7 linked regions of the Homo sapiens genome follow. The protein of the gene in region 2 interacts with the protein of the main gene of each other region in a biochemical or structural test. Each region holds a gene or a part of one and is shown on either strand. Other genes may lie near its edges.

Region 1 (4,241 bases), on a different chromosome or scaffold from region 2:
AAAAATCAATAAAAAAACCCCCCAGACATTAGGTTGTGTGGGATGGAGCATCATATTACCAAATCAGTGAAAAATCTCACCATTTGATTATTGAGATTGTTACCTAAAAGCAATACTAAATGCATTATGCCAGGTGCGGTGGCTCATGCCTGTAATCCCAGCACTTTGGGAGGCTGAGGTGGGCGGATCATCTGAGGTCAGAAGTTTGAGACCAGCCTGGCCAACATGGTGAAACCCCATCTCTACTAAAAATACAAAAATTAGCTGGGCATGGTGGTGCATGCCTGTAGTTGCAGCTACTCAAGAGGCTGAGGCAGGAGAATTGCTTGAACCTGGGAGGTGGAGGTTGCAGTGAGCCAAGATTGCGCCACTGCACTCCAGCTTGGGTGACAGAGCGAGACTCCATCTCAAAAACAAAAACAAAACCAAAAACAAACAATAAAAAACCAATACTAGATTTATTGTATTGGAAAAGTACAGTCTGGCCTAACTAAAATGTTTAAATGAATTTGCTTAAGTAAGATTAACAGCAGGGTGTAGAATAGCCAAGCAAAATAGAAAATCAAAACAAAGGCAGAGCAATTTTATAAATCAGGATATCTGTGACTGAATCATAGGCCTAGGAATAAACAGACACTTGTGAAGAAAATTACAGGATACACAGGAATACGACTAGGAATAATAGGTGAAATTAGGAAAGGTCAGGGTTTTTTCCCCTAACAATTAGACCATTAGGTTATTTAGGAAATAGTTTCCAAAGGAAAATTTAATTGCTGAAGACTGAGTTACATGGACGTAGATCTTATAAGGTATATTAAAGGAAGCAATTTTATGTTACAGGAGGATGTACTTAATGTCTCCCCTCCCTCATTTTATCATACATATTTATTTTGTTTTTTGAGTCTCGCTCTTGCCCACGCTGGAATGCAGTGGTGCCATTTTGGCACAATCTTGGCTCACTGCAACCTCCGCCTCCCGGGTTCAAGCGATTCTGCTGCCTCAGCCTCCTGAGTAGCTGGGAGTACAGGCGCACGCCACCATACCTGGCTAATTTTTGTATTTTTAGTAGAGATGGGGTTTCACCGTGTTGATCACGCTGGTCTTGAACTCCTGACCTCGTGATCTGCCCACCTAGGCCTCCCAAAGTGTTGGGATTACAGGCGGGAGCCACTGCGCTCGCCCATATTATACATATTTCTAATTAAGAAAACAGACTCTAGTTAGCATCCATGTTTCTGTCATTTTGACTCCTTGGCATTCTGGTCATGTGAAAATAGCCTCTTCTCTTGGCTCACTGTGGTTATGAATTGTTGGTTTATTTTTAGAACTGGTTTTTAAGTTTTCCCCTGAGTATTATTTTTAAGCCTTTTATTTTGGAAAATTTTAAGCATATACAAGAGTAGAGAGAATAGTATGATGAACAACCATGTTCCCATCACACAGTCTTAACAGTTGTCAACTCATGGCCAATCTGATTTCAACTCTCTCCCCATTTATTCTCCTCTATCAGGTAATTTAATTGCTGTATCTTCACTATATATTTCAAAATATGAAGCCTTTAAAAAAAAACCTGAAAAAACCTTAATAACAAAATTGCCCAGATTTTCCTGTTGTCTCATAAATGCTTATTTCTGATTGACAATTTTGATAATTTTACTTAATAAAGCTGATTGGGTTCTAACATGTTAAAAAATTTGACATTTGTAGAATAACCTTAGAATTTGGATTGTAACCTTAGAAGAAGGGGCCACTGGGGAATTATTTAGTTCCTTAAAGCTCAGTGCTGTAACTTTTTTTTTTTTTTTTTTTTTTTGAGATGGAGTTTCGCTCTTGTTGCCCAGGCTCGAGTGCAGTGGCGTGATCTCTGCTCACTGCAACTTCCGCCTCCCGGGTTCAAGTGATTCTCCTGCCTCAGCTTCCCAAGTGGCTGAGATTATAGGTGTGAGCCACCACGCCTGGCTAATTTTGTATTTTTAGTGGAGACGGGGTTTGACCATGTTGGTCAGGCTGGTCTCGAACTCCCGACCTCAGGTGTTCACCTGCCTTAGCCTCCCAGGGTGTTGGGATTACAGGCGTGAGCCACTGTGCCAGGCCTCAGTGCTATAACTTCTTAACCTCCGGTATGACAGCATTTTTTGTCAGCAGTCACTTGTAATTGTTAGATAAGGATGATAAGACAGGATTCTTGAAATTCAGTGATTTTTCCATGGGGTCACTTTGAGAAATAAGATTGTCATGTGAAAAGTTTGCAGCATTTTCATGAACTAATAGACAGGTGAGGTATTAGTCAATTGAACTTGGCTATAAGAAATTATTCTCTGAGATCATATTTCTTATTACTTTCTTGAGACAATCAGTGTAGTGGTAACAAAACCCCTTCCAAATTAGAAATACGATAAATTCTTAGATAACCATGCTTTGTAACATTGTCATTTTGTCAGGATATTAAAGAAGGTATTAATATTTAATGTTATTTTACTTGTAAATACACAATTTATGTTACTTGCACAGCTAAAGTACTGTTATTTGTTCAATTTCTGACAGTATCACTTAATAAAATGTCTTTGACTCTTTCATCTTTATTGAGTTATACTTTACATTCAGTAAAATTAACCCATTTTAGGTGTACAGTTTGATGAATTTCGGCAAATGTGTACAGTTGTGTAATCACCACCACAATCCAGGTACAGGACATTTTCATCACCCCAAAAAGTTACCTGGTTTCCCTTTGTATTTTCAGTCACTTCCCCCTAGGCTAGGTCCTGGCTACCTAGCAACCATTGTTCTGCTTTCTCTCACTGTAATGCTTTTCCTTTTTGAATTTCATAGAAATGGAATCATGTGTCTGTTTTCTTTTGCTTAGAACAGTGCTTTTGCAACAGATCTGTGTTGCAGCATGTAGTAGTTTCTTCTTTTATATTAAAAGTAGTATTTTCATTGCTTGACCTGGGAAGGTGGAGGTTGCAGTGAATCAAGATTGTGTCATTGAATTCCAGCCTGGGCAACAGAGTGAGACTCTGTCTCAAAACAAACAAAAAAAGTAGTACTTATTTCATGACTGTACCACAGTTTTTAAATCTGCTTTCTAGCTGATATAAATTTGGGTAGTTTACTCTTTCTAGCTATTCTCTAGTCTTTATTTTTTTCTTGTTTATTTATTATTTTAATTTTTTTTGAGACAGGCTCTTGCGCTATTGCCCAGGCTGGAGTGTAGTGATGTGAACATGGCTCACTGCAGCCTTGACCTTCTGGGCTCAAGCGATCCTCCTGCCTCAGCCTCCTGAGTATCTGGGACTACAGGCTTGCATTACCACATCTGGCTAATTTTTAATTTTTTGTAGAGATGGAGTCTCTCTGTGTTGCCCAGGCTGGTCTCGAACTCCTGGGCTCAAGCAATTATCCCGTCTCAGCCTCTCCAAGGTGCTGGGATTACAGGCATGAACCACTGTGCCTCGCCTTATTTATTTCTTTAAAATTAGAGACATGGTCTTGCTGTGTTGCCTAGGCTGGTCTCAGACTCCTGGCCTCAAGCTGTCTTCCCACCTTGGCCTCCCAAAATGCTGGGATTACAGGCAGGAGACACCATGGCTGGCCTGAAGTTTTTCTTGGCTTCAATTTATCACAATGTTTTTCATAGGAAAAGTCCACTGATAATAAAAACCTAGATTTTTCTTGACAGCAAATTTTTGTGTTAATTAAAAAACATACTAGTATATGTAAAAAGATTATATTTTAGAATTCCATTAAATGTAATGGTTGTATTCTAGATTGCTAGTTATAAAGATGATGATAGTGGCTAGTCGACAAAGCACTGTGATGAATGGATCAGTAGATAAGTTTTTATTTTCTTCCCCATGAGTTCAGGCTCCATTTCTGTGATATAGAAGTGTCGAGAACCTGCCGTTTCAAGAAATTGGCTCTGCTCCAGCATGAATCTGCTGTTCAGAATTCAGGCGATGAGGTATTCCAGGTCTTTACTTGAATTCAGATACCAGGTCTACCTCACAGACAACCTGGAACTCCAGAGATGGCCTTAACTGTGTCTCCAAGACTCTTACTTAGGGACATGGTGGAAATTCATTTGGGTGTTTTCCGTGACAGCCTCCTTGTTATGAAGTGAGAAGTGGAGGAAGATGGTTTTTTAAGCCTTAAGAAAAGCTAAATTTGAGATTAGGAAGTTAATTTGATGGAGAAAGCTAAGAAAGCCCAGACAATATGGTAGGGTTATTTTAATTTCTAAA
Region 2 (4,241 bases):
ATTCTTCCATTACAATTTCCTTTCTAAAATACTAACTGAATTCCAATTAACCTAATAAAAGAAAAGTAATATAATATTTATGAGTATTTTTCTCTGTGAAATATAAATTGCTAGATAAATGAATATCCAAATGCACTAGTGGAATATTATAACCAATATTTATATCCATTTAAATTCACAGAAGTATTAATATACACAAAAGCCAGTGAATGTCTGTGACCAATTAACACTTTCATTTGTAAGATGGCATTCATGGTCGCTTCCAAGATGGCTGAATAGGAACAGTTCTGGTCTACAACTCCCAGGAAGATCTTTGCAGAACACAGGTGATTTCTGCATTTCCAACTTAGGTACCTGGTTCATCTCACTGGGACTGGTTGGACAGCAGGTGCAGCCCATGGAGGGCGAGCCGAAGCAGGGTGGGGCATTGCCTCACCTGGGAAGTGCAAAGGGTTGGGGGATTTCCCTTTCCTACCCAAGGGAAGGCATGAGTGGCTGTACCTGGAGGAGCGATACACTCCTGCCCAAATACTGCACTTTCCCAATGCTCTTCGCAACAGGCAGACCAGAAGATCCCCTCCCATGCCTGACTCGGCGGGTCCCACGCCCACACAGCCTTGTTCGCTGCCAGCACAGCAGTCTGAGATCAACCTAAGATGTGGGAGCTTGGTGGGGGGAGGGGCGTTTGCCATTGCTGAGGCTTGAGTAGGCAGTTCTATGCTCACAGTGTAAACAAAGCAGCAGGGAAGCTCAAACTCGGCAGAGACCACCACAGCTGAGCAAGGCCTACTGCCTCTCTAGATTCCACCTCTGGGGGCAGGGCATATCTGAACAAAAGGCAGCAGACAGCTTCTGCAGACTTAAACGTCCCTGCCTGACAGCTCTGAAGACAGCAATGGTTCTCCCAGCATGGCGTTTCAGCTCCCGATAAGGGACAGACTGTTATCCAAGTGGTTCCCTGACCCCTGTGTAGCCTGACTGGGAGATATCTCCCAGTAATGGCCAACAGACACCTCATACAGGTGGGTGCCCCTCTGGGACGAAGCATCCAGAGGAAGGATCAGGCAGCAATATCTGCTGTTCTGCAGCCTCCTCTGGTGATACCCAGGCAAACAGGGTCTGGAGTGGACCTCTAGCAAACTCCAATAGACCTGCAGCTAAGGTACCTGACTGTTAGAAGGAAAACTAACAAACAGAAAGGAACAGCATCAACATCAACACAAAGGACATCCACACCAAAACCCCATACGTAGGCCACCAACATCAAAGACCAAAGATAGATAAAACCACAAAGATGGGGAGAAACCACAGCAGAAAGGTTGAAAATTCCAAAAACCATAACGCCTCTTCTCCTCCAAAGAAACACAACTACTCGCCAGCAAGGGAACAAAACTGGATGCAGAATGAGTTTGACAAGATGACAGAAGTAGGCTTCAGAAGGTCAGTAATAACAAACTTCTCCAAGTTAAAGAAGTATGTTCTAACCCATTGCAAGGAAGCTAAAAACCTTGACAAAAGGTTAGACGAATGGCTAACTAGAATAAACAGTGTAGAGAAGAGCTTAAATGACCTGATGAAGCTGAAAACCAGAGTATGAGAACATGGTGAAGCATACACAAGCTTCAGTAGCTGATTCAATCAAGCAGAAGAAAGGATATCAGTGACTGAAGATCAAATTAATGAAATAAAGCGAGAAGACAAGATTAGAAAAAAAAGAGTGAAAAGAAATGAACAAAGCCTTCAAGAAATACGGCATTATGTGAAAAGACCAAATCTACGTTTGAATGGTGTACCTGAAAGTGATGGGGAGAATGGAATCAAGTTAGAAACCACTCTTAAGGATATTCACCAGGAGAACTTCCCCAACATAGCAAGGCAGGCCAACATTCAAATTCAGGAAATACAGAGACCACCACAAAGATACTCCTCAAGAAGAGCAACCCCAAGACACATAATTGTCAGATTCACCAAGGTTTAAATGAAGGAAAAAATGTTAAGGGCAGCCAGAGAAAGGTTGGGTTACCCACAAAGGGAAGGCCATCAGACTAACAGCAGATCTCTCGGCAGAAACTCTACAAGCCAGAAGAGAGTAGGGGGAAAATATTCAACATTCTTAAAGAAAAGAATTTTCAACCCAGAATTTCATATCCCGCCAAACTAAGCTTCATAAGTGAAGGAGAAATAAAATCCTTTACGGACAAGCAAATGCTGAGAGATTTTGTCACCACCAGGCCTGCCTTACAAGAGCTCCTGAAGGAAGCACTAAACATGGATAGCAACAACCGGTAGCAGCCATTGCAAAAACATGCCAAATTATAAAGACCATCGATGCTAAGAAGAAATTGCATCAATTAATGGGCAAAATAACCAGCTAGCATCATAATGACAGGATCAAATTCACATATAACAATATTAACCTTAAATGTAAATGGGCTAAATTCCCCAATTAAAAGACACAGGCTGGCAAACTGGATAAAGACTCAAGACCCATCAATGTGCTGTATTCAGGAGACCCATCTCACGTGCAAAGACACACATAGGCTCAAAATAAAGGGATGGAGAAAGATCTACCAAGCAAATGGAAAGCAAAAAAAAATCCTGGTCTCTGATAAAATAGACTTTAAACCAACGAAGATCAAAAGAGACAAAGAGGGCCATTACATAATGGTAAAGTGATCAATTCAACAAGAAGAGCTAACTATCCTAAAATATATGCACCCAATACAAGAGCACCCAGATTCATAAAGCAAGTCCTTGGAGACCTACAAAGAGACTGAGACTCCCACACAATAATAATGGGAGACTTTAACACCCCACTGTCAATATTAGACAGATCAAGGAGACAGAAAATTAACAAGGATACTCAGGACTTGAACTCAGCTTTGGACCAAGCGGACCTAATAGACACCTACAGAACTCTGCACCCCAAATAAACAGAATATACATTCTTCTCAGCACCACATCCCACTTATTCTAAAATTGACCACATAATTGGAAGTAAAGCACTCCTCAGCAAATGTAAAAGAACAGAAATCACAACAAACTGTCTCTCAGACCACAGTGCAATCAAATTAGAACTCAGCATTAAGAATCTCATTCAAAACCACACAACTGCATGGAAACTGAACAACCTGCTCCTGAATGACTACTTGGTAAATAACGAAATTAAGACAGAAAGAAATAAGTTATTTGAAACTAATGAGAACAAAGACACAACATACCAGAATCTCTGGAACACATTTAAAGCAGTGTTTAGAGGGAAACTTAGAGCACTAAATGCCCACAAGAGAAAGCAGGAGAGATCTAAATCAACATCCTAACATCACAATTAAAAGAACTAGACAAGCAAGAGCAAACAAATTCAAAACCTCGCAGAAGACAAGAAATAACTAAGATCAGAGCAGAAGTGAAAGAGATAGAGACAGAAAAAAAACCTTCAAAAAAAAAAATAAATGAATCCAGGAGCTGATTTTTTGAAAGATCAACAAAATAGACCATTAGCAACACTAATAAAGAAGAAACGAGAGAAGAATCAAATAGATGCAATAAAAAATGATAAAGGGGATCACCACTGATCCCACAGAAATACAAACTACTATCAGAGAATACTATAAACACCTCTACGCAAATAAACTAGAAAATCTACAAGAAATGGATAAATTCCTGGACACATACACCCTCCCAAGACTAAACCAGGAAGTCGAATCTCTGAATAGATCAATAACAGGTTCTGAAATTTAGGCAATAATTAATAGCCTACCAACCAAAAAAAGTCCAGGACCAGACAAATTCACAGCCGAATTCTACCAGAGGTACAAAGAGGAGCTGGTATCATTCCTTCTGAAACTGTTCCAATCAATAGAAAAAAGGGGAATCCTCCCTAACTCATTTTATGAGGCTAGCATCATCCTGATACCAAATGATATCTGGCAGAGACACAACAACAAAAAAAAAGAAATTTAGACCAATATCCCTGATGAACACTGATGCGAAAATCCTCAATGAAATACTGGCAAATCGAAACCAGCAGCACATCAAAAAGCTTATCCACCACGATCAAGTCGGCTTCATCCCTGGGATGACAGGCTGGTTCAACATATGCAAATCAATAAATGTAATCCATCACATAAACAGAACCAATGACAAAAACCACATGATTATCTCAATAGATGCAGAAAAGGCATTCAACAAAATTCAACAGCCTTTCATACTAAAAACTTTCAATAAACTTGGTATCGATG
Region 3 (4,241 bases), on a different chromosome or scaffold from region 2:
TTTTTCCTTATTATGGAAAATTTCAAACATACGTAAACAGAATACAGAATCACTGTATGATTATACAGTGCACTTTCCATGTAACTATTACCCAGTTTCAACAATGATCAGCACTCTTATCATCAATACCTTCACCCCTCCCCACTCAATTCTTCTTTAATAGTTTTTAGGCAGGATTTATACACGCAGAAATGCAGAAACCTTAGGTGCACACTTTGACAAATGGAGGCACCCATGTAAACTGACACCCCAACCACGATATAGAACTTTTCAGAAAGTTCTCCTCGCTAATATTTTTAGCTCAGCTTTGCCTGTTCTAGAACTGAAGAATGAATTTTTTTTTTTTTTTTTGAGATGGAGTCCAGCTCTGTCACCCAGGCTGGAGTGCAGTGGCGTGATCTCAGCTCACTGCAACCTCCACCTCCCGGGTTCAAGCGATTCTCGTGCCTCAGCCTCCCAAGTAGCTGGGATTACATGTGTGTGCCAACATGCCCAGCTAATTTTTGTATTTTTAGTAGAGACGGGGTTTTGCCATGTTGGCCAGGCTGGTCTCAAACTCCTGACCTCAAGTGATCTTCCTGTCTTGGCCTCCCAAAGTGCTGGGATTACAGGCAAGAGCCACTGCGCCTGGCATTAAGCATGAATTTTAAACTGCACTTATGTGCAAGCTAATTCTGCATTCATTGTTTTTGCATGCTAGATCCCCATTCCCCAACCTACCTCCACCCCCATCCAGAGAGATGTTCTTTAGAATATATTAGAAAATAATAAAAGGAGCTAGGGAAATTGGGCTTTGACTTTTAAGTACCTGGTAAGTCACTTTGGCCCAGTTTTTTAACTGCTCTGAGCCTTAAATTCATAGAAGGGCTTTCAGCCAGACACTCCTTCCATTCAGGTATTGCCGGACACTGAGGAGCCCTGGGGGAGGAGCGTCAAGGCAGAGGACCTTAAGCTTGGGATGGCACAAGAACCACCTGGGGGTCTGGAAAACTCCAGAGGTATTCATTCAGCCTGGTGGTAGATGGGTGGGCCTGGCAATCTGCATTTTAACTAGTGCCCCAGGAGGCTCTCATTTTGTCACTGGATTTCCCTTAGACCCTTGGAGAAACTCTAAAGAAAGGTAAGACCCAAAAAAAAAAAAAAAAAAAAAAAAAAAAAGAGAGAGAAGCTAAGAAATTAAGTTCTTCCTGCGGTTGAGCTTTAGCAGAACTTCAGTTGGCATTTAGAGTTCTGCCTCCTCAACAAGTCCAAGGCCTCTTTCACATAACAGCTCTTCAAATATTTGAAGTTGGTGATCATGATCCTTCCTCAGTCTGATCTTCTCAACATGGAACTGCCCCAATTCATTCAACCATTTCCAGTATGACCTCCCCCTTGGGGAGGGAAGGGTTCCTTTCATGCTAAAGTGGATTCCAGTCTTTGGTAATTTCCTCTAGAAGACAAGGGGTGTCCTGGAGGTTTGACCTGGAGCTCAGAAGCAATAAAAGCGAATCATCTGTTGACGATCTATTACTATGCCAGGAACTGTACCAGCCCTTAAACATACAGTGTCATTTAATCCTCACAAGAACTCTTCAAGAAAGATGTTAATTTTCTCCATTTACCAATTTGGAAATCATGGTTTCCCAGGAAGAGGTGGAGCTGGATGGCGTGATGGTCAGTTTTAAATGTCAAGGAGCTAGGCTATTGTTCTTAAGTCATTCTATTAAGTGCTAACCTGTGTGTTGCTCTGAAGGTATTCTGTACATGTGGTTAGCATCTACAATCAACCAGCTGACTTTAAGTAAAGGAGATTATCTTCAATAATCTGGGTGGGTCTCATCCAATTAATTGGAGAGCTTTAAGAGCAAAACTGAGGTTTCCTTGATAAAGAAGAAATTCTCCCTGAAGCCTGTAGCATTGCAGCTCCTGCGGAGCTTCCAGAGTTTCTGGGTGCCCTAGAGAGTTTGAATTTGCCAGCCTTCCCAATTATATCATCCAATTCCTTGAAATAAATCTGTGTGTATATGTGTATTTATTTATTCATATTCTACTCATTCTGTTTTTCTGGAGAACTCTGACAGATAAAGACAGGAACCCAGTTCTCCCCAATTTCAAAAGATCACGTCTTGCCTCTGTGACTTGCCCACATTCTGCCAACCACCACCTGCAACTCCACCAAAAACAACTCAGGGATGTACCTCAGCCTAGGCAGGCTTCAGCTGCCTGGAATTGTATTTGAATATTAACATAGATCCAGCCGGGTGCGGTGGCTCACACCTGTAATCCCAGCACTTTAGGAGGAGAGGCAGGAGGATAGCTTGAGCCCAGGAGTTTGAGAGCAGCCTAAGCAGCATGGCAAGACCTTGTCTCTGCAAACAAATTTTTAAAAAATTAGCCAGGTGCAGTGGTGCATGCTTGTGATCCCAGCCACTTGGGAGACTAAGGCAGGAGGATGGCTTGTGCCCAGAAGGTTGAGGCTGCAGTAAGATATGACTGCACCACTGCACTCCAGCCTGGGTGACACAGCAAGACCCTATCTCTCAAAAAAAAAAAAAAAAAAAAGCAACAAGATTTTAAGAATAAACTCTTCCTATCACAAGGCTGCCATGAACGAGACAGACTTTTGTTTTTACCTTTGAAGTTTTATAGTGAGCAGAAGGTATGGTTTACTCAGTGCTTAAGAACAGTGACCTGTTCTATTCCTAGCAAGGTCACTAACTTGCTATATAACTTTAGGCAATCCCAAGTTTCACCACTTGATTAATTATAATGCTAGCCTGAAAGTCTGCTTTCCACTGCCCTCATCCACTCAGACAGTTGGCATTAAATAGTCAGATGGCCCATCAGGATTTCAGATCTGACCTACTTTCTAGTTGAGACTCGGGCCTTGAAGGACCCAAGACACCTTCACACCCATGGTATCTTTGAAGTTCTGCAAACACAATGTCATGAATGATAAGTGCTCAACAGACAGACACTGGCTGAACTGACCTCTGCTCCTAACCCTGTCCCTGGGTGCTATTTCAGGTGAAAGCCAAGACCCAGTCTCCACATTCCAGCCACTGCAGTTCAAAGGAGAGGATGCCAAGTCCTATAGAAGAAATGTTACAGAGTGCAATAGGGCTCAAAGGGAAGAACAGGAAATGTTTTATGGATGAGGTGATGGTTGAGCTGAGTTTGAGAATTTAACCATAAAAGACTTGAGAGGAATGAAAGGAAGGCATTCCGGGCAAAGGTAAGAACAGACTAAAGGGCAGGAGATCATAGGGTTGTTGGGCAAAGGGATGAAGAAAGTTTTCTCCTGGAAAGAAGGCTACATGGAGAGGCCCAGCAAGAGCAGCTGGGGGCTGGGTCACATAAGCCACAAGGGCAGCCCTGAATGACAAAATACTGAATAAGTAGGCAATGGCGAGCTAGAGGAGGCATCCCACAAAACGCAGAGAGACGAACCAAGGTGTGCTTTGGAAACCTGCACCTGACAACACAATGGACGGGAGTAAATTGGGGAAGAAGCGGTACAAGCCCCACCTGAATTATTAATAGTGTATCAACCCTGCTCAACTTGCACTATCTCATTCAATCCTCACCACCACTTCCCTAAGGTGCTCTTACTATTCCATTTTACGGATAAGGGAACCAAGGCTCAGAGCACTTAAGAAGTGTGCCCCAGATCACACAGCCAGTGTGGCACTGGGATCTTCCCCAGCTGGTCTGACTCCAGGGCCAGCACACAAGACCCCTAGACCAGCCTGCCTCAAGTCAGGGCTTGGGCCCTGCATGCTCATTTCCCACTGTGTGGGTTGAGAAGTAGGGGTCATGGAAAGAAGGAGAATGATACAAGAGACTTGGCAAAGATGATTTCTCTGTAACCTACTAATGGAGGGGAAATACTGACTGGAAAAAGATGGTTTGAGCCAAGCTTCCTCAGGGTTGCACATCAAGCCAGCAAAACCCCAGATTTTCTCAGGAGCACACACCAAGTCCTATGCAAATGATCCTCCATATAGACCAGCTGCTTTCAGAAACAGCTCAGTTAGCTTTTAATCATAAGCAAGCTGAACACCCCAAGAATTGATGGAAGGAAGATGGTGATTGTTATAGATTGAACTGTGTCCCCAAAATTCATGTTGAACTCCTAACCCCCATACTTTGGAAACTGGGTCCATTGCAGATGTAACTAGGTAAGTTAAGATAGGAAGGAAGGTAGACCCTTATCCAATGATGTCCTTATAAAAAGGGAAATCTGGCCAGCCTGGGTA
Region 4 (3,500 bases), on a different chromosome or scaffold from region 2:
ATACTCAAAAAGGGAAAAGAAAAACTAGAAAATCGTATGAATAACAAATCAGCACCAGGGTCAATTTGGGAAGGGTGAGAGGGAAGAAAGAGTTAGCTTGATAACCTTAGACCCAAGCTCCCAAAGACAGAACCTAGAGAGACAACGAACTACCTAGGCTAAGTAATCAGGAATTTTAGTGAAAGGCAAATATTAGCTTCTTAGCTCCTACTAATGAGCTCTACAAGGTTTTGAATGCAAGCCATTGTTAAAAATGAACATCAAGAAGTTAGTTCTTAACTCTTCTCAGCAACATGTGACTATGTAAGATATTCTCAAGCTCTTTCCAAATTCTCACCAGTATTTGCAAAGTCAAGCCAAGAGGCTGAAGCTGGTAACCATCACTGCACACTTTCCTCCTCAATCAATCCTCCACCAAGTAGGAAGGAGGTATATCGATATTCGAACATTTTTAAAAGGGTACAAGGTTGCCTGACCCTGTTTACTAAAAAGCACTAGTTATTGCTGACATTGTACTTGTTATAACTTACTTAGTCATTATTGGACATTACTGAATTATCGTTACTACTATAAAAAGTTCAGGCCGAGTGCAGTGGCTCATGCCTGTAATCCCAGCATGTTGGGAGACCCAGGCTGGCAGATTGCCTGAGATCAGGAGTTCGAGACCAGTCTGGCCAACATGGTGAAACCCCCTCTCTACTAAAAATACAAAAAAATTAGCCCGACGTGGTGGCATGCGCCTGTAATCCCAGCTACTTGGGAGGCTGAGGCAGGGGAATTGCTTGAACCAGGGAGGTGGAGGTTGCAGTGAGCCGAGATCGCGCCACTGCACTCCAGACTGGGTGACAAAAGCGAGACCTCGTCTCAAAAAAGAAAAAAAAAAAAAAAAAAGCTCAATTTGTTGGAAGTTTCATATTTTTAATCCAGTTTTTAAAAAATTTTAAGTAAAAGAGCAGTTTATTTTTATGCTTTAAATATACTTTTCTTTTCTTAGATATACCTGTAAATTTTGTATTATAGTTTCTCTATGATGTATGTCTTTAGACCATTTTATTTTGACAAAAAAGACTCTGATGGCTGGGCGCGGTGGTGCACGCCTGTAATCCCAGAACTTTGGGAGGCCGAGGTAGGCAGATTGCCTGAGCTCAGGAGTTCGAAACCAGCCTGGGCAACATGGTGAAACCCCATGTCTACAAAAGACACAAAAATTAGCCAGGCATGGAGGCACTTGCCTGTAACCGCAGCTACTTGGGAGGCTGAGGCAGAATAATCGCTTAAACTCAGGAGGCGGAGGTTGCAGTGAGCCGAGATCATGCCACTACACTCCAGCCTGGGTGACAGAGTGAGATTTCGTCTCAAAAAAAAAAAAAAAAAAAAGTCTGAAATAAACATGGTGAAAGTATCACATGGGAATTATTCTGGAAAGCAATTTAGAAATCTGTTCCAAGGCCTTAAAAATGTTCATATCCTTTAACCCAATAATCTGACATCCTCAGAAAAACTAGAAGAAATGATAAGACATTTGAGGTGTAGAGGCAATATAAGAATTGTTCATTGCAATATTAATTATAATAGCAGAATTCAAAAGGCTCACATATAAATTATGCCACATCCATTCATTTTATGAAATATCATGCAGCCTGTTACAAAGACTATTTACTGTCATAGGAAATGAGTACAACACTTACAAGGTAAGTGTGTATATGTCACAGAAAAAGAATGTGCCAAAATACTAACATCAGTCACTGAAGGAGGTGAGAGTATGCTTTCTTTTTTTTTTTTGAGACAGAGCCTCGCTCTGTCGCCCAGACTGGAGTGCAGTGGTGTGATCTCTGCTCACTGCAAGCTCCACCTCCCGGGTTCATGCCATTCTCCTGCCTCAGCCTCCAGAGTAGCTGGGACTACAGGTGCCTGCCACCACACCCAGCTAATTTTTGTGTATTTTTTAGTAGAGACGGGGTTTCACTGTATTAGCCAGGATGGTCTCCATCTCCTGACTTCGTAATCTGCCTGCCTCGGCCTCCCAAAGTGCTGGGATTGCAGGCATGAACTACCGCGCCCAGCCTTTTTTTTTTCTTTTTGAGACAGTATCTCGCTCTGTCACCCAGGATAGAGTGCAGTGGCACAATCTCGGCTCACTGCAACCTCCACCTCTGGGTTCAAACGATTCTCCTGCCTCAGCCTCCAAAGTAGCTGTGATTACAGGTGTGCACCACCATGCCCAACTAATTTTTTTGTATTTTTAGTAGAGACAGGCTTTCGCCATGTTGGCCAGGTTGGTCTTGAACTCATGGCCTCAAGTGATCTGCCTGCCTCAGCCTCCCAAAGTGCTGGGATTACAGACATGAGCCACTACGCCTGGCCATGTATGCTTTAATTTCTATATTTCTTTTCTCTTTTTTTTTTTTTTGAGGCGGAGTTTCACTCTGTCACCCAGGCTGGAGTGCAGTGGGGTGATCTCAGCTCACTGCAACCTCTACCTCCTGGGTTCAAGCGATTCTTCTGTCTCAGCCTCCTGAGTAGCTGGGATTACAGGTGCCCATCATCATGCCTGGCTAATTTTTGTATTTTTAGTGGAGACAGGGTTTCGCCATGTTGGCCAGGCTGGTCTTGTACTCCTGACCCTCCTGACCTCAGGTGATCCGCCCACCTCAGCCTTCCAAAGTGCAGGGATTAGAGGCGTGAGCCACCGTGCCCAGCCAATTTTGATATTTCTTAAAATAAAATTTTTAGAATGTTAGTTTTTCTAATTAAGTAGATTTAAGTTATTTTTTATTATTTATTTATTTATTTATTTGAGATGGAGTTTCACTCTTTTTGCCCAGGCTAGAGTGCAATGGCACGATCTCGGCTCACCGCAACCTCGCCTCCCGGGTTCAAGTGATTCTCCTGCCTCAGCCTCTCAAGTAGCTGGGATTACAAGCATGCGCCACCACGCCTGGCTAATTTTTTGTATTTTTAGTAGAGATGGGGTTTCTCCATGTTGGTCAGGCTGGTCTTGAACTCCTGATCTCAGGTGATCTGCCCACCTCAGCCTCCCAAAGTGCTGGGATTACAGGTGTGAGCCACCGCGCCTGGCCTTAGATTTATTTTTTACATTAACTAGATAATTGATGATATAGAATTACAATTAATTATTATGATTATTATTTTATGACAATAGCATTTAACTATGTTAAAAATAAAGCTAATATATTTTAGAGACACATATTAAAATGGTTATAGAATAATATGATGATTGAGATTTGTTACAAAATAATCCAAACTTGCAGGTGGGACAGTGGAAAGAATGGGAGATGGGAGTATTATAAAACGAGATTGGGCCGGGCTCAGTGGCTCATGCCTGTAATCCCAGCACTCTGGGAGGCCGAGGCAGGTGGATCACTTGAGGTCAGGAGTTTAAGGCCAGCCTGGACGACATGGTGAAATCCCGTGTCTACTAAAAATACAAGAATTAGCCAGGCATGGTGGTGTGTACCTGTAATCCCAGCTACTTGGGA
Region 5 (4,241 bases), on a different chromosome or scaffold from region 2:
CTCGAACACCTGACCTCAGGTGATCCGCCTGCCTCAGCCTCCCAAAGTGCTGGGATACAGGCGTGAGCCACCACGCCCGGCCCACTCACACCCATTCATGCTCACACACTCATTCACACACCTGCTTTCACACATACACATACCTGTTCACACACATGCACACCTGCTCACACACGCAGGTGCTTAAGCACGTCCTCACCCCCCACACACACCTGCTCACACATGGGAACACACACATGCTTACACATGTTAAAACACATATCCACTCACATACATGCACAGACCTGCTCACATATACACATACATGCTCACACACCCCAGCTCACACCTTCCTGCTCACACACACCTGCTTACATACACCCTCAAACATGTTCACACCCACTCACACATCCACTGACACACACCTATGCCCATTCACACACACTTATATCACACACATCCCTGCTTACATACACATTCACACATATACACTTGCTCACACACCTGCTGTCACACCCCCACTCACACATATCACTCACACATGCCTGCTTACAGCCACTCACATATACCATGCTCACATCCCTGCTCACACAGGCACACCCACACACTGCTGACACCCACTGACATCATACGTGCACAGCTGCTCACACGCACTGAAATACATTCATGTGTTGACAGACACACAAACATGGCCACACCCACTCTCAGCCACACCAGCTCTCACATTCACCTTCTCACACACCCACTCACACAGCCACTCGCACACATGCACCTGCCCGTACCTGTGCACACGCACCCTCTGCACACTTGCTCACACACACCCAGATGTACACACACTCATGGCACAGAGAGACACACACACCTGGCACACTTCATGGAGATGCCCGTATGCACTACACAGCAGATACACACACACAGAGACAGCCACAGACAGCCCCACAAAACACACACACTGGCAAACATGCACACACACACACACGCGACTCGGTGGCGTGGCTGCTGGGTCAGTTGGCCTGGCTGGGTGGGGGCAGGGCACAGACACGGCCAGGGTCGGGGCCAGGGTGGAGGGCCAGGTGCCCCACCTGTCTCCCCAGGCAGGAGCCCAGGCCCGGGCTCCAGGCCATCCGCCTCGCCGTCAGACACCTCCAGTGGGGGGCTCTGCCGCTCGCCCTCCTCCTCATCTGAGCTGGGCTGGGCTGGGGACAGGGATGGGTACTGGAGGCACATCCGGGGCAGGTAGGAGACCTGGACGGTGGGGGAAGGAGATCAGAGTCAGGAAGGGCCAGCTTACAGCTCAGGGGGGCTGGGAGGGAGGTCAGCTGGGGAGAGAAGGAGTGCAGAGGGCAGGGGACAATGGCAGGCACAGGAGACTGGAGGAAGAAGACCAGGGAAAAGGGGGGCCAGTTGAGGTGCTGCACATAGGGTGCAGGCTGTGGGGCGAGGGGTGCTGACATCCAGCCCACCCAGCCCTCCCAGCTGGGCCTCCTGGTTTAGGACTGTGGGCACCGGGGAAGTGGTGCCTTGTTCTCCTCCCTGCAGCGGTGCTGTGTGGACCCGCATTAGGCTGGGGTCAGAAGAGGGCATGCTAGGGACCGGTGCGTTGGGTCTGGAAGGGGGTTTCATAGGTGGGATGATGAGTGAGTGGAGGGACCCTGGAGGTCAGTAGGGGTGGTAGAGGTCAGCAGAGGTCACTGATCCGGGTTAGGGTCAGTAGGGAGGGTCACTGGGGAGAGGCAGGGTCAGTAGAGGTGTTCAGTGACTTGGTGTGGGATCCATGAGGGCTAGTGAATGGGGGTGGCAGACAGTGAGGCCCAGGAGGGCCCACAACAAGGCGTTGGGATGGGGAGGCTTGGTGAGGGTGCGAGAATTATCTGGGGTCTGTCCATACTCGGGGTGAGATGAGATAAGGGGTGTGGGGTCATGAGGTCACTTGGGGGGTCAGGCGGCAGCCGTTGGAGCTCCAGCCGCCGTTGGCACTGTGGGGCAGGAAGCTGAGTTGGGTAAGAGCCTGTGTCAGCTTCCTGTGAAGCTCCCGGGCCCCACCACAGGCCTGGCAGTCTCCTGGGGGACGGGGCAGGCGGTGGCATGCACCTGGTGGCCAAGACTGGGATGGGGTGGCACCATGGGGGTATCGAGGACGTGCATCTGCTCCAGCTCCATGTGGCGGTAGAGCTGCTGCAGCTGCGGGGGCTGCACGCTCTGGAGCTCCGTGAAGTTGTTCTCGGCGAAGCTCTCGAACTCGCTGTGCACGTGGTGGGGGTGGAAGTCCCAGTAATGGTCTGTGGGGGACAGCCAGGCAGTATGGGGTGAGCTCAGGGTTGGGCAGGGCAGGAAAAGGTTATAGTAACATTAAATAATACTGCCAGGCCATATGGGGCCTAACCATCTCGTTTAACCCTCGCCACCTGCATGGTTACTCTAGGCCTGCATTTTATAGATGAGGACACTGAGGCTTCGAGCGGCTACATAGCATGCCCAAGGTCAAAAGCATCCGGGTCACAGCCAGGACTCAGGGCTGAAGCAAAGCTCGTGTTCTCAGCAATTCCATCCTGATTCCTGTGCAGTCACACAGACCGAGCGTCTAATCCTGGCTCTGCCATTTACTTGCTGTGTGACCTCAGGCACATATGTGGCCTCTCTAACCTCAGTTGAGTTGCCTGTAAAATGGGGATCACAGTTATTGGGAAGATACGAATGAGTACACATTTGTAAAACACCTCGCACCAGAGCCGGCCCTCAGGGAAAGTTGATTCCCCTCCTATCCTGTTAAAACCTCCCAGCCAGGGCCGCGCGCGGTGGCTCACGCCTGTAAACCCAGCATTTTGGGAGGCGGAGGCGGGCGGATCATGAGGTCAGGAGATTGAGACCATCCTGGCCAACGTGGTGAAATCCCATCTCTACTAAAATACAAAATATTAGCTGGGCGTGGTGGTAGGTGCCGTAATCCCAGCTACTCAGGAGGCTGAGGCAGGAGAATCGCTTGAACCCGAGAGGTGGAGGTAGCAGTGAGCCGAGATTGCGCCACTGCACTCCAGCCTGGCGACAGAGTGAGACTCTGCCTCAAAAAAAAAAAAACTCGGCCGGGCGCAGTGGCTCACGCCTGTAATCCCAGCACTTTGGGAGGCCGAGGTGGGTGGATAACGAGGTCAGGAGATCAAGACCATCCTGGCTAACACAGTGAAACCCCGTCTCTAGTAAAATACAAAAAAATTAGCTGGGCGTGGTGGCGGGTGCCTGTAGTCCCAGCTACTCAGGAGGCTGAGGCAGGAGAATGGTGTGAACCCAGGAGGCGGAGGCTGCAGTGAGCCGAGATTGCGCCACTGCACTCCAGCCTGGGCGACGGAGCGAGACTCCGTCTCAAAAAGAAAAAAAAAGAAAAAAGAAAAGAAAAAAACCTCCCACGGGTTCCTGAGCTCCCTGGCTGCCCACAGTCTCTCTCTCTGTCTCACACACACACACTCACACAGCCTTGTCACATGGCCAAGGTGTGACAGCAGAGTCACAGGGCTGACATTCCTCACACACTAGAACTTGTCCAGGCACACGGTGGCCCTTCCTCTTCAAAGCCATGACCTTAAGCAGTGGCACCTGTGTTCCCGTGAGGTTCCTGGGACCTGAGACTTTCCTGGAAAACCCCCTGTGGGTTCCTTGAGTCTGTGGTGGAGGAGACTGAAGTCCGGGGAATAACCCCATGCCACCAAAAGCCCTGTCTTGGAACTGGGGAAGATCTTCAGCATGAACACCTTTTCCAGGAACAAAAACTGCCACACATCTGCGGGACTTCCTGGGCGCAATTCGGGGTCCAAAATGAAGCGTGGTAATAAAGTGACAAGATCGGCTGTCTCATGTGGGCCAAAGAGGGCGCCTACGAGACTCCAGGTCCAGGCAGTGTCTCTGGGACAAGTCCACCACCAGCCATGCGTGCGTGTGTACGTGTGTACAAAGGTGTACACATGTCTGCCTGCATCTCTCTTTCTCTCTCACACAAACACCTAATCACACATCCCTAATAGATAATCATGATTTTTGGTTCTGGACTGGATCTCGGAGTACTCGCTTTCTAAACCTGCTTTGCAGTATGACCATGGACAAGACATTTTTTTCTCCCGGAGCCTCTCATTCCCCACTCTAAAAGTCAGAAATGCTTTTAGACCTGGGTAGTTACTGAGGCCTTGTCTACATGTATAATTATTTGGCCTCACAGTCCAGACAACCCAGACTCCCACCTTTAGGAAGCCACATGGCAGAGAGGAGAGAAAGGC
Region 6 (4,241 bases), on a different chromosome or scaffold from region 2:
TTCTGTCTCAGAAAAATAAAATAAAATAAAAAAGACAAGAAAAATTAGCTGGGTGTGGTGGTGCACGCCTGTAGTCCCAGCTACTTGGGAGTCTGAGGCAGGAGGATCGCTTGAGGCCAGGAGTTTGAGGCTGCAGTGAGCTAGGATTGCGCCACTGCACTCCAGCCTGGGCGATAGAGTGAGATCCTGTCTCAAAAAAAACTTTTTTAAGATGATAAATAAAGAGCGCCTGGCATATAGCAGGTGCAGCCTCAGTTTTAGCTTTGTTCTTTTTGTTGTTGTTATTGTTGAGACAGTCCTGGTCTGTTGGCCAGGCTGGAGTGCAGTGGTACAATCACAGCTCACTGCAGCCTTGACCTCCTGGGCTCAAGCGATCCTTCCACCTCAGCCTCCCGAGTAGCTGGGACCACAGGCATGTGCCACCATGCCAGGCTAATTTTTGTATTTTTTGTATAGATGGGGTTTCACCATGTTGCCCAGGCTGGTCTCAAACTCCTGAGCTCAAGCGATCTGCCTGCCTTGGCCTCCCAAAGTGCTGGGATTACAGGTGTGAACCACCACACTCAGCCAGTTTTAGCTTTTAGTTGTTGTTGCTATTGTTACTACTAAGTACTACAGAGGAAGACACCCCAGCCCAGGCGACAGTGAGCCCAGGACTGGAATGGTCTCTAACTGTGGGCAAATTCCACGCCTTTCTGTGACTCAGTTTTCCAGTCTCTGAAACGGGGATATTTAGGCTCCTCGAACCCGAGCAGCCCTCCCAGCTCCAACGCCCCATGGGAGGGTGTGGGGGTGCTCACCAGGTCCCCACTGCTGCCCGAAAGGAGGAGGTCTTTCACGGTGAGATTGCATCGTGGGGACAGGTCCACCGGATCAGCCGGCTTCTCAGCACAGATCCTTCCTCCTGGGCTCCACATTTCTGACCAGGGCAGGTGGGGACGGAGACAGGGAGAGTGTCAGACGGGGGGAGTCCTGAGCTTCCAGCCTCTAACCGCCTCCTCCACCAAGTCTCCCATGATTAATCCCAACATTCATATGACTTCTGCCAGAGTTTGGAGTCCCCAAGGCCTGAGTTGAAGGGGGCAGCCCTCACTAGTGACTCGGTCTCCCCTCTGCTATAAGATGGGAACCCAGCCAGTCATGGTGGCTCACGCCTGTATTCCCAGCACTTTGGGAGGCCAAGGCAGGCGGATCATCTGAGGTTAGGAGTTCAAGACCAGCCTGGCCAACATGGTGAAATCCCATCTCTATTAAAAATACAAAAATTAGCCGGGCCTGGTGGCGTGCACCTGTAATCCCAGCTGCTCGGGAGGCTGAGGCAGGAGAATCACTTGAACCCGGGTGGTGGACGTTACAGTGAGCTGAGAATGTGGCACTGCCCTCCAGCCTGGGTGACACAGCGAGACTCCATCTCAAAAAAAAAAAAAAGATGGGGACCCAAATTCAACAGGGCTTGGTTCTGTCCGTCCCACAAGGCTGAGGAAGACACAGGACATTGTCAGGAGACACCGGCTGATTCAAAAGGGAGTGGCTGTTATCACACAGAATTACAGGCTAGATTTGCAGCCAGCCAGGCGTTATCTCACCCAAGGGGCAGGGACGAGGTCTGATTCACCTCTGGTTGTCCCCTCCTGGTAGCCGGCATGCAGTAGGCATGCTGTCCCAGCACACAAACTTTGGGTCAGGTAACCCTTGGTTCTAATCCTGGTTGGGCAGGGCTGTGTGACCTTGAGTAAGTGACTTCACCTCTCTGAGCCTCAGATTTTTTTTTTTTTTTTTTTTTGAGACGGAGTCTCGCTCTGTCGCCAGGCTGGAGAGCAGTGTGGCAATCTTGGCTCACCGCAACCTCCACCTCCCAGGTTCAAGAGATTCTCCTGCCTTAGCCTCCCGAGTAGCTGAGACTACAGGCGCCTGCCACCACACCCAGCTAATTTTTGTATTTTTAGTAGAGACAGAGGTTTCACCATGTTGGCCAGGATGGTCTCGATCTCTTGACCTCGTGATCCGCTCGCTTCGGCCTCCCAAAGTGCTGGGATTACAGGCGTGAACCACTGTGCCCAGCATTTTTTGTTTTTGGCTTTTTTTCGAGACAGAGTCTGGCTCTGTCAGCCAGGATGGAGTGCAGTGGCATGATCTCAGCTCACTGCAACCTCCGCCTCCCGGGTTCAGGTGATTCTCCTGCCTCAGGCTCCTGAGTAGCTGGGACTACAGGTGGCCCCCACCATGCCCGGCTAATTTTGTATTTTTAGTAGAGATGGGGTTTCACCATGTTGGCCAGGCTGGTCTTGAAGTCCTAACCTCAAGTGATCCGCCTGCCTCAGCCTCCCAAAGTGCTGGGATTACAGGCATGAGTCACCGCTCCGGGCCTGAGCCTCAGTTTTGTCAACTCTCCAATGGGACCAAGAAGAGCTCATAGCAAGGGTCAAGGGACAAAGGCCACCCAGAGGCCAAGTATCTCCAGCCAGGGCTCTGCCTGGCCCGCCGGGAATGCTTAATCAATAGAGTAAATCATTACTGATCTGCTGTTCCCCACGTCTAGGAGGAGCACCCTGGAACCTAGGACCTGGTAACCTCATGCACTTTTATTGAGCATCTACAGGCTGGGTGGAGCGGCTCACACCTGTAATCTCAGCACTTTGGGAGGCTGAGGTGGGCAGATCACCTGAGCTCAGGAGTTCAAGACCAGCCTGGCCAACATGGTGAAACCTCGTCTCTACTAAAAAATAAATATTAGCTGGGCATGGTGGCATATGCTTGTGATCCCAGCTACTCAGGAGGCTGAGGCAGGTGAATTGCTTGAACCTGGAAGGCAGAGGTTGCAGTGAGCCGAGATCGCGCCACTTTACTCCAGCCTGGGTGACAGAGTGAAACTCTGTCTCAAAAAATAAAAATAAATAAAAAATAAAAAAAAATCTACTAGGAACCAGGCACGGGGTACAGACACGTAGAAGGCAAGACCCTGACTTTGGGCTGTGCTTGTCAGCACCATGCCTGGTGCCTGAGCCACCTGCCGGGGTTGCATCCTAGCTCTGTGGTTTTAGCTCATTGCTCAACCTGACAGGACTGTTTCACGATCTGGAAAATGGGCTCCCAATAGCATCCACGTGAAAGCATGGAAACACCTAGCCAAGGGAGACACGTGTCCTGAGTTTGAGTCTGGGCCCAGCTCCAAATTGCTGTGTGACCTTGGACAAGATGCCAGCCCTCTCTGGGCCTCCATTTCCTCACTTACAGGAAGGGCCCTGGAACAAGGTGAGGGCGGTGGGCAGAGACACAGCAGGACTCACCCAGGTCTATGGTCACAGAGGCTTCAGGTACTTGGATCACTGGCCCTGGGGTTGTGGTGGAGCAAGAGTTGCCAGGATGATAGGAGAGGCAGGGCCCCTTGCCAGGCTGGGCAGGATGGCAGCCGGCGGGGGAGGTGGCTGGTCCGCTGCGTGGAGGGGTGTCCTGGGGGTCGGAGGGGAGGTCTTCGGAGATGCCACTATCACTGCCTTCGGGGGACCAGAGTGGGGAGCTGGGCAGTGAGTCTCCAGAGCCCAGGATGGAGCTGAGGAAGTCGTCAGAGTCGGGGTTTGGCAGGACCTGCTGGGGTGGACAGGGAGGGGTAGTAGGAATTAGGAAGTGCTCACTCTTTTTAGATTAGTGTGTGGCCCCAGGGAAACCAGTGACCCTCTTTGGGCCTTAGGTGTCCTTCCCTTCTCCAAGATGAGTTACTGCTTCTTCCTCCCGGGGCTGCTGAGGCTCAAACGCAGTAACATAGCATAAAAATCCCAGCCAGTGCCAGGTGCAGTGGCTCCTGCCTGTAATCCCAGCACTTTGGGAGGCCGAGGAGGGCGAATCACTTGAGGTCAGGAGTTCGAGATCCGCCTGGCCAACATGATGAAACCCCATTTCTTCTAAAAATACAAAAAGTAGCTGGGCGTGGTGGCGGGCATCTGTAGTCCCAGCTACTCGGGAGTCTGAGGAAGGAGATTCTGAACCCGTAAGACGGAGGCTGCAGTGAGCCGAGATCACGCCACCGCACTCCACCCTAGGCAACAGAGCAAGACTCCATCTCAAAAAAAAAAAAAAAAGAAAAAAAGAAAAACAAAAGAGCCAGGCACGGTGGCTCAGGCCTGTAATCCCAGCACTTTGGGAGGCCAAGGCGGGCAGATCACCTGAGGTCGGGAGTTTGAGACCAGCCTGACCAACAGGGAGAAACCCCGTCTCTACTAAAAATTCAAAATTAGCCAGGCATG
Region 7 (4,241 bases), on a different chromosome or scaffold from region 2:
TTCCAAGTGGGTGTTAGTTTGTATGGATCAGTGAGCCCGTCTTCTTTCTTGTTCTTGAAGGACAGCAGATTATATCTGAAAAAACATCTTAACATGGACTTTCTTTCTTTCTTTATTTCTCTCTCTCTCTCTCTTTCTTTCTAAGTTCCGGGGTACATGTGCAGGATACGTTTTTCAATATCTTATTTTAAAAATCCACATTTGGGCCACAAAGGATTAAGGCAGCTGATACTTTACTGTCTTGATTTTTCCTTAATTTTATGGGGTTAATCACATGATTCTTTATATACCAGCAATTCTTCACCACAAATTAATAAATAAGAGAACACAAGAAGGTTTTGTCTTGTTCCCCATCTCATGTGTTGTTGGGTAAATGGCATGAATTTCCAATAGCCCAGCATGGCATTATAGTCAGGGCTCAGCCTTGGAAAAAGTATAAAATAGATGAAGTTTGTTTTTGAGGAACCCTCTGTCCTCCTTGCTAAAAACTCTTTTCTGTTTTCATGCTTCAGATTTCCTTGATAAGAAACCACCCATCAAAATGTATTCTATCCCTTTAGGGTCAAACAAATCTGAGAAAACAAATTCTAGGTATAACGTAAATGTTTGATAAGGGCTTAATGTTTTATTCAGTCAAGATCCTAGTTGCATTTTGATAAGTGTCCTGAATACCTTACTTATAAGGAGTGAATTACATGGAAATTTCAGGTAAGAGGGAATGATTAAAGTAGAATACTTTTCTGGGTTTTCAATGGAAATATATACATTACCCAAGTATATTTATAAACATCAAGGGTGGGTGTTTAGAATACACTGTGATTTGTTCTAAATCAGTATTCATATTCTGCAATAAAATTTTCAGAAATTCTGGGTCTCATGTAAATGTCTTTTGACTATTAGAGTGTTCTTGGCATTAAAACTCCCACCCGCACATAAAGTGTTAGACAAACAGTCCAGGATTAAAAGCCAGAGCATTACATGGCTACATTATTCATTCAGTCTTACTTCTGATAAATCATTCACTCTTTCTGAGTTTCAGGATGGTAAGAGCAGCTCCTTCTACTTTCTTGAGTGGCAATAAGAATCAAATGAAATGATAGATTTGAAAGTACTTTGTAAATTATAAAGCATTATAATAGGTAAGGAATTATCATTATTATGGCATTAACTTGCAGATATTTTGAAAAGGGCAATAAGTGAACAGAAGCTTTCTGTCTACCAACCTCATGACTCTGAACATAAAATACAATAAACAGTGGTCAAGAGTGAACATTTGAGAGGTCAGACCTGAATTTGAGCTCTGGCCCTGTCATTTGCTAGCAGTGTGACCCTGGGCAGATTACCTAGCCTCATTTTTTTCATCTCTAAAATGGGGAGAAGGAGTAGTCGCTACCTCTCAGAGTTGTTGTGAGCATAAAATGAAATAATGCATTTAAAAAATGCTTAGCAGAGAGTTTAATCATATTTGCCATTATTTGTTCCTCTTCAATCAGAATAAGCTCTCAGACTCCTGAAAATGCAGCCGGAGAGTCCACACGAGTCCCTCCCACAAAAGGCCAGGTGGTTAGGGAAAGTCCTCAATCTCTAGGTAAGCTTTAGAGCAACTCTCTAAGAGGACCCTGGAGCTTCATATTTCACCCAGAGCAGGCAGCAGGGGAAGCAGCTGCTAACCTAAAGGAAAATGTTCTTTCCAAGTATAGAGTACCTGTGAGCTGACCTGCTGAGTGGCCTTTCAGACACAACCCCAAATCAAGGTGGCTCTGGGGAGAATTATGCCGGTAAATGAACCAAAGAACCCACCCCTTTGTTTTCTTTAACACAGAGCAGAGAATAACTCCATCAGAAAGGCCTCATCCACCACTCACTGGGGCCAGAAATCAGAGAAGATGAGTAATGTTGGCCTCAGGGTGTTTCCTACAAGCCAAGGGCCTTTTTAGCTCACCAGTGTGGATGAAAGTGTGTTTCTTCATGTCTGACTTCTGGTGGAACCTCTTGCCACAGTACTGACAGGGGTAGGGCCGAGTGTCTGAGTGGATAAGCAGGTGTGTGGACAGTGTGGATGACCTCTTGAAGCTCTTCCCACAGATCTTACAGTCAAAGCTCCGTTCCTGCAGAGAGAGAGAGAGAGAGAGAGAGAGAGAGAGAGAGATGCAGAACTCCTACTGCAGTCAACTAGACTGCTGCTCTCCTCACCCCTCAGCTGACCCTAAAATCCCTTGAACACTTTTTCTTTCTTTTTTTGAGACAGTCTCCTCTGTCGCCCAGGCTTGAGTGCAGTGGAACGATCTCAGTTCACTGCACCCTCCACCTCCCAGGTTCAAGCAATTCTCGTGTCTCAGCCTCCCAAGTAGCAGGGACTACAGGCACACGCCATCACACCTGACTAATTTTTGTATTTTTAGTAGAGATGGGGTTTCACCATGTTGGTCAGGCTGGTCTCAAACACCTGGCCTCAAGTGATTCGCCCACCTCGGCCTCTCAAAGTATTGGGATTACAGGCGTGAGCCACCGTGCCTGGCCCTTCAACACTTTTTCTACCAAAACATTCTTCACCCACAACCTTCCACACCCCATGGCAAATACATATCCACACCCTGCTTTTTTTGACACCCATTAGCACACACTTCTCCACCCTCCTCAACAGGAGGCTTAGACCTCAGTCACTTGAGATGCCACCTCCCCCCAGCCAGTGTGGGTGCTGGGGGAGATGGGCTAATACTCTTTTTAGCCTTCGTAAGTAGGCATTCTCCTGAGATAGCTATTGGCATATTTACTTGCTCATCTACTCTCCATCTCTCAGCTAAACTATAATCTTCATGTGGGCATGCTGTCAAGGACCTGATGTGTTATAAGATTCTTAAGTACTTGGCACCTGGAAGTTAGCCAACAAATATTTATTAATGAATGAATGAATAAATAGCGGCGGTGGGGCATGGTGGCTCACGCCTGTAATCCCAGCACTTTGGGAGGCCCAGGCTGGTGGATCACTTGAGGCCAGGAGTTCGTGACCAGCCTGGCTAACGTGGCGAAATCCCGTCTCTACTAAGAACACAAAAATTAGCTGTGCTGTAGTGGCATGCGCCTGTAATCCCAGCTACTTAGGAGGCTGAGGCACGAGAATCACTTTAACCTGACAGGGGGAGGTTGCAGTGAGCTGAGATTGTGCAACTGCCCTCCAGCCTGGGCAACAGAGCCAGACTCTGAAAGAAAAGAAAAGAAAAAAGAAAAGAAAAGAAAGGAAGGAAGGAAAGAATGAATAGCGGGGTGAATATGCTACTAGATGCTCTAAATGAGCTGAGATTCCTGCCTTTTCAGTCGAGAGGGGTCAATGCAAATTAAGTGACAACCATTTGGTGAAAAGAATAGGCACAAAGAAACAGAGCTAGTAAGTCTGATATATCAGCAGCACGAATCAGTGCATACAAACCTACCTCAAGCCCAAAGTAACAATGAGGATCACACTCTCGAGGCTCACAGTGGTGTGACACCAAAATCCAGGGCTGCCTCAAGGCCTGAGCCGGCCACAATCCTCCTTTCCCTACACACCTGCACCAGGGCAAGGGGACGCAGCGGAGGGCTTGGGGGAGGAAACTGGGGGAAGTCGAGGAGAAAACTTCCAGGCAGAGAGTGGCTGGTGCTGCACCGAGGAGATGCAGAAGATCCCCGAGCAGGGCCGCGCGCGGCGGTGCGCCCCGCGCTTACCTGCGAGTGCACGGCTTTGTGCTGCTCCAGGCTCACCGCGTGCCCGAAGGTCTTGCCGCACATCTCGCAGGCAAAGGGTCTGGTACCGCTGTGGGACCTGCGCACGTGCACCTCGAGCCCGTGCGGCGTGGAGAACACCTAAGGCGGGTGGGGCCAGAGAGAAGGCCGCTGAGAGGGGCCGCGGGGCGCAGGCGAGGCGCGGGTAGGGGAAGCGGGCGCACGGCAGGCGAGGTGGTGAGCTCGGGAGCCTCACCTTGCTGCACTTGATGCACTTGTAGGAGCCGCCGCCCAGCAGCAGGCGGGTGCACAGCAGCTCCGACTCCACCTTGACGCCAGCGCCCTTGTCTGCGTGCAGCCCGTGGCCACGCTCGGGGTACAGCAAGCCCGCCGCTGCCGTGGGCCTCTCATACAGCCCGGCTGCCGCAGACCCGAAGTCGCCGTAGAGCCCTAGGCCAGGGCCAGCGGTGGCACCGGCCCCTGCGCTGCAGCTCCCTGGCGCCCCGGCCCCCGCGCCGCCGGCAGCCCGCTTCGGGCCGTAC

Evidence for each region.
Region 1: the proteins of GSK3B (region 2) and UBR5 form a complex in vitro, tested with the Homo sapiens proteins (one study listed by BioGRID).
Region 3: of the proteins of GSK3B (region 2) and NFE2L3, one has a biochemical effect on the other in vitro, tested with the Homo sapiens proteins (one study listed by BioGRID).
Region 4: the proteins of GSK3B (region 2) and ATXN3 form a complex in vitro, tested with the Homo sapiens proteins (one study listed by BioGRID).
Region 5: of the proteins of GSK3B (region 2) and SPI1, one has a biochemical effect on the other in vitro, tested with the Homo sapiens proteins (one study listed by BioGRID).
Region 6: of the proteins of GSK3B (region 2) and CREB3L3, one has a biochemical effect on the other in vitro, tested with the Homo sapiens proteins (one study listed by BioGRID).
Region 7: of the proteins of GSK3B (region 2) and GFI1, one has a biochemical effect on the other in vitro, tested with the Homo sapiens proteins (one study listed by BioGRID).

What each region holds. Positions count from the first base shown.
Region 1 is NC_000008.11:102,402,480-102,406,720, reverse strand, and holds part of UBR5 (E3 ubiquitin-protein ligase UBR5), read left to right. Parts: intron 1-4,241. UniProt on the Homo sapiens protein: E3 ubiquitin-protein ligase involved in different protein quality control pathways in the cytoplasm and nucleus. Mainly acts as a ubiquitin chain elongator that extends pre-ubiquitinated substrates.
Region 2 is NC_000003.12:120,003,517-120,007,757, forward strand, and holds part of GSK3B (glycogen synthase kinase-3 beta), read right to left. Parts: intron 1-4,241. UniProt on the Homo sapiens protein: Constitutively active protein kinase that acts as a negative regulator in the hormonal control of glucose homeostasis, Wnt signaling and regulation of transcription factors and microtubules, by phosphorylating and inactivating glycogen synthase (GYS1 or GYS2), EIF2B, CTNNB1/beta-catenin, APC, AXIN1, DPYSL2/CRMP2, JUN, NFATC1/NFATC, MAPT/TAU and MACF1.
Region 3 is NC_000007.14:26,158,253-26,162,493, reverse strand, and holds part of NFE2L3 (nuclear factor erythroid 2-related factor 3), read right to left. Parts: intron 1-4,241. UniProt on the Homo sapiens protein: Activates erythroid-specific, globin gene expression.
Region 4 is NC_000014.9:92,075,583-92,079,082, forward strand, and holds part of ATXN3 (ataxin-3 reference isoform), read right to left. Parts: intron 1-3,500. UniProt on the Homo sapiens protein: Deubiquitinating enzyme involved in protein homeostasis maintenance, transcription, cytoskeleton regulation, myogenesis and degradation of misfolded chaperone substrates.
Region 5 is NC_000011.10:47,357,783-47,362,023, forward strand, and holds part of SPI1 (transcription factor PU.1), read right to left. Parts: intron 2,259-4,241; coding exon 2,071-2,258; intron 1,225-2,070; coding exon 1,062-1,224; intron 1-1,061. UniProt on the Homo sapiens protein: Pioneer transcription factor, which controls hematopoietic cell fate by decompacting stem cell heterochromatin and allowing other transcription factors to enter otherwise inaccessible genomic sites.
Region 6 is NC_000019.10:4,156,342-4,160,582, reverse strand, and holds part of CREB3L3 (cyclic AMP-responsive element-binding protein 3-like protein 3), read right to left. Parts: intron 3,589-4,241; coding exon 3,288-3,588; intron 920-3,287; coding exon 801-919; intron 1-800. UniProt on the Homo sapiens protein: Transcription factor that may act during endoplasmic reticulum stress by activating unfolded protein response target genes. Activated in response to cAMP stimulation. In vitro, binds to the cAMP response element (CRE) and box-B element.
Region 7 is NC_000001.11:92,476,646-92,480,886, forward strand, and holds part of GFI1 (zinc finger protein Gfi-1), read right to left. Parts: coding exon 3,956-4,241; intron 3,841-3,955; coding exon 3,703-3,840; intron 2,109-3,702; coding exon 1,943-2,108; intron 1-1,942. UniProt on the Homo sapiens protein: Transcription repressor essential for hematopoiesis. Functions in a cell-context and development-specific manner. Binds to 5'-TAAATCAC[AT]GCA-3' in the promoter region of a large number of genes.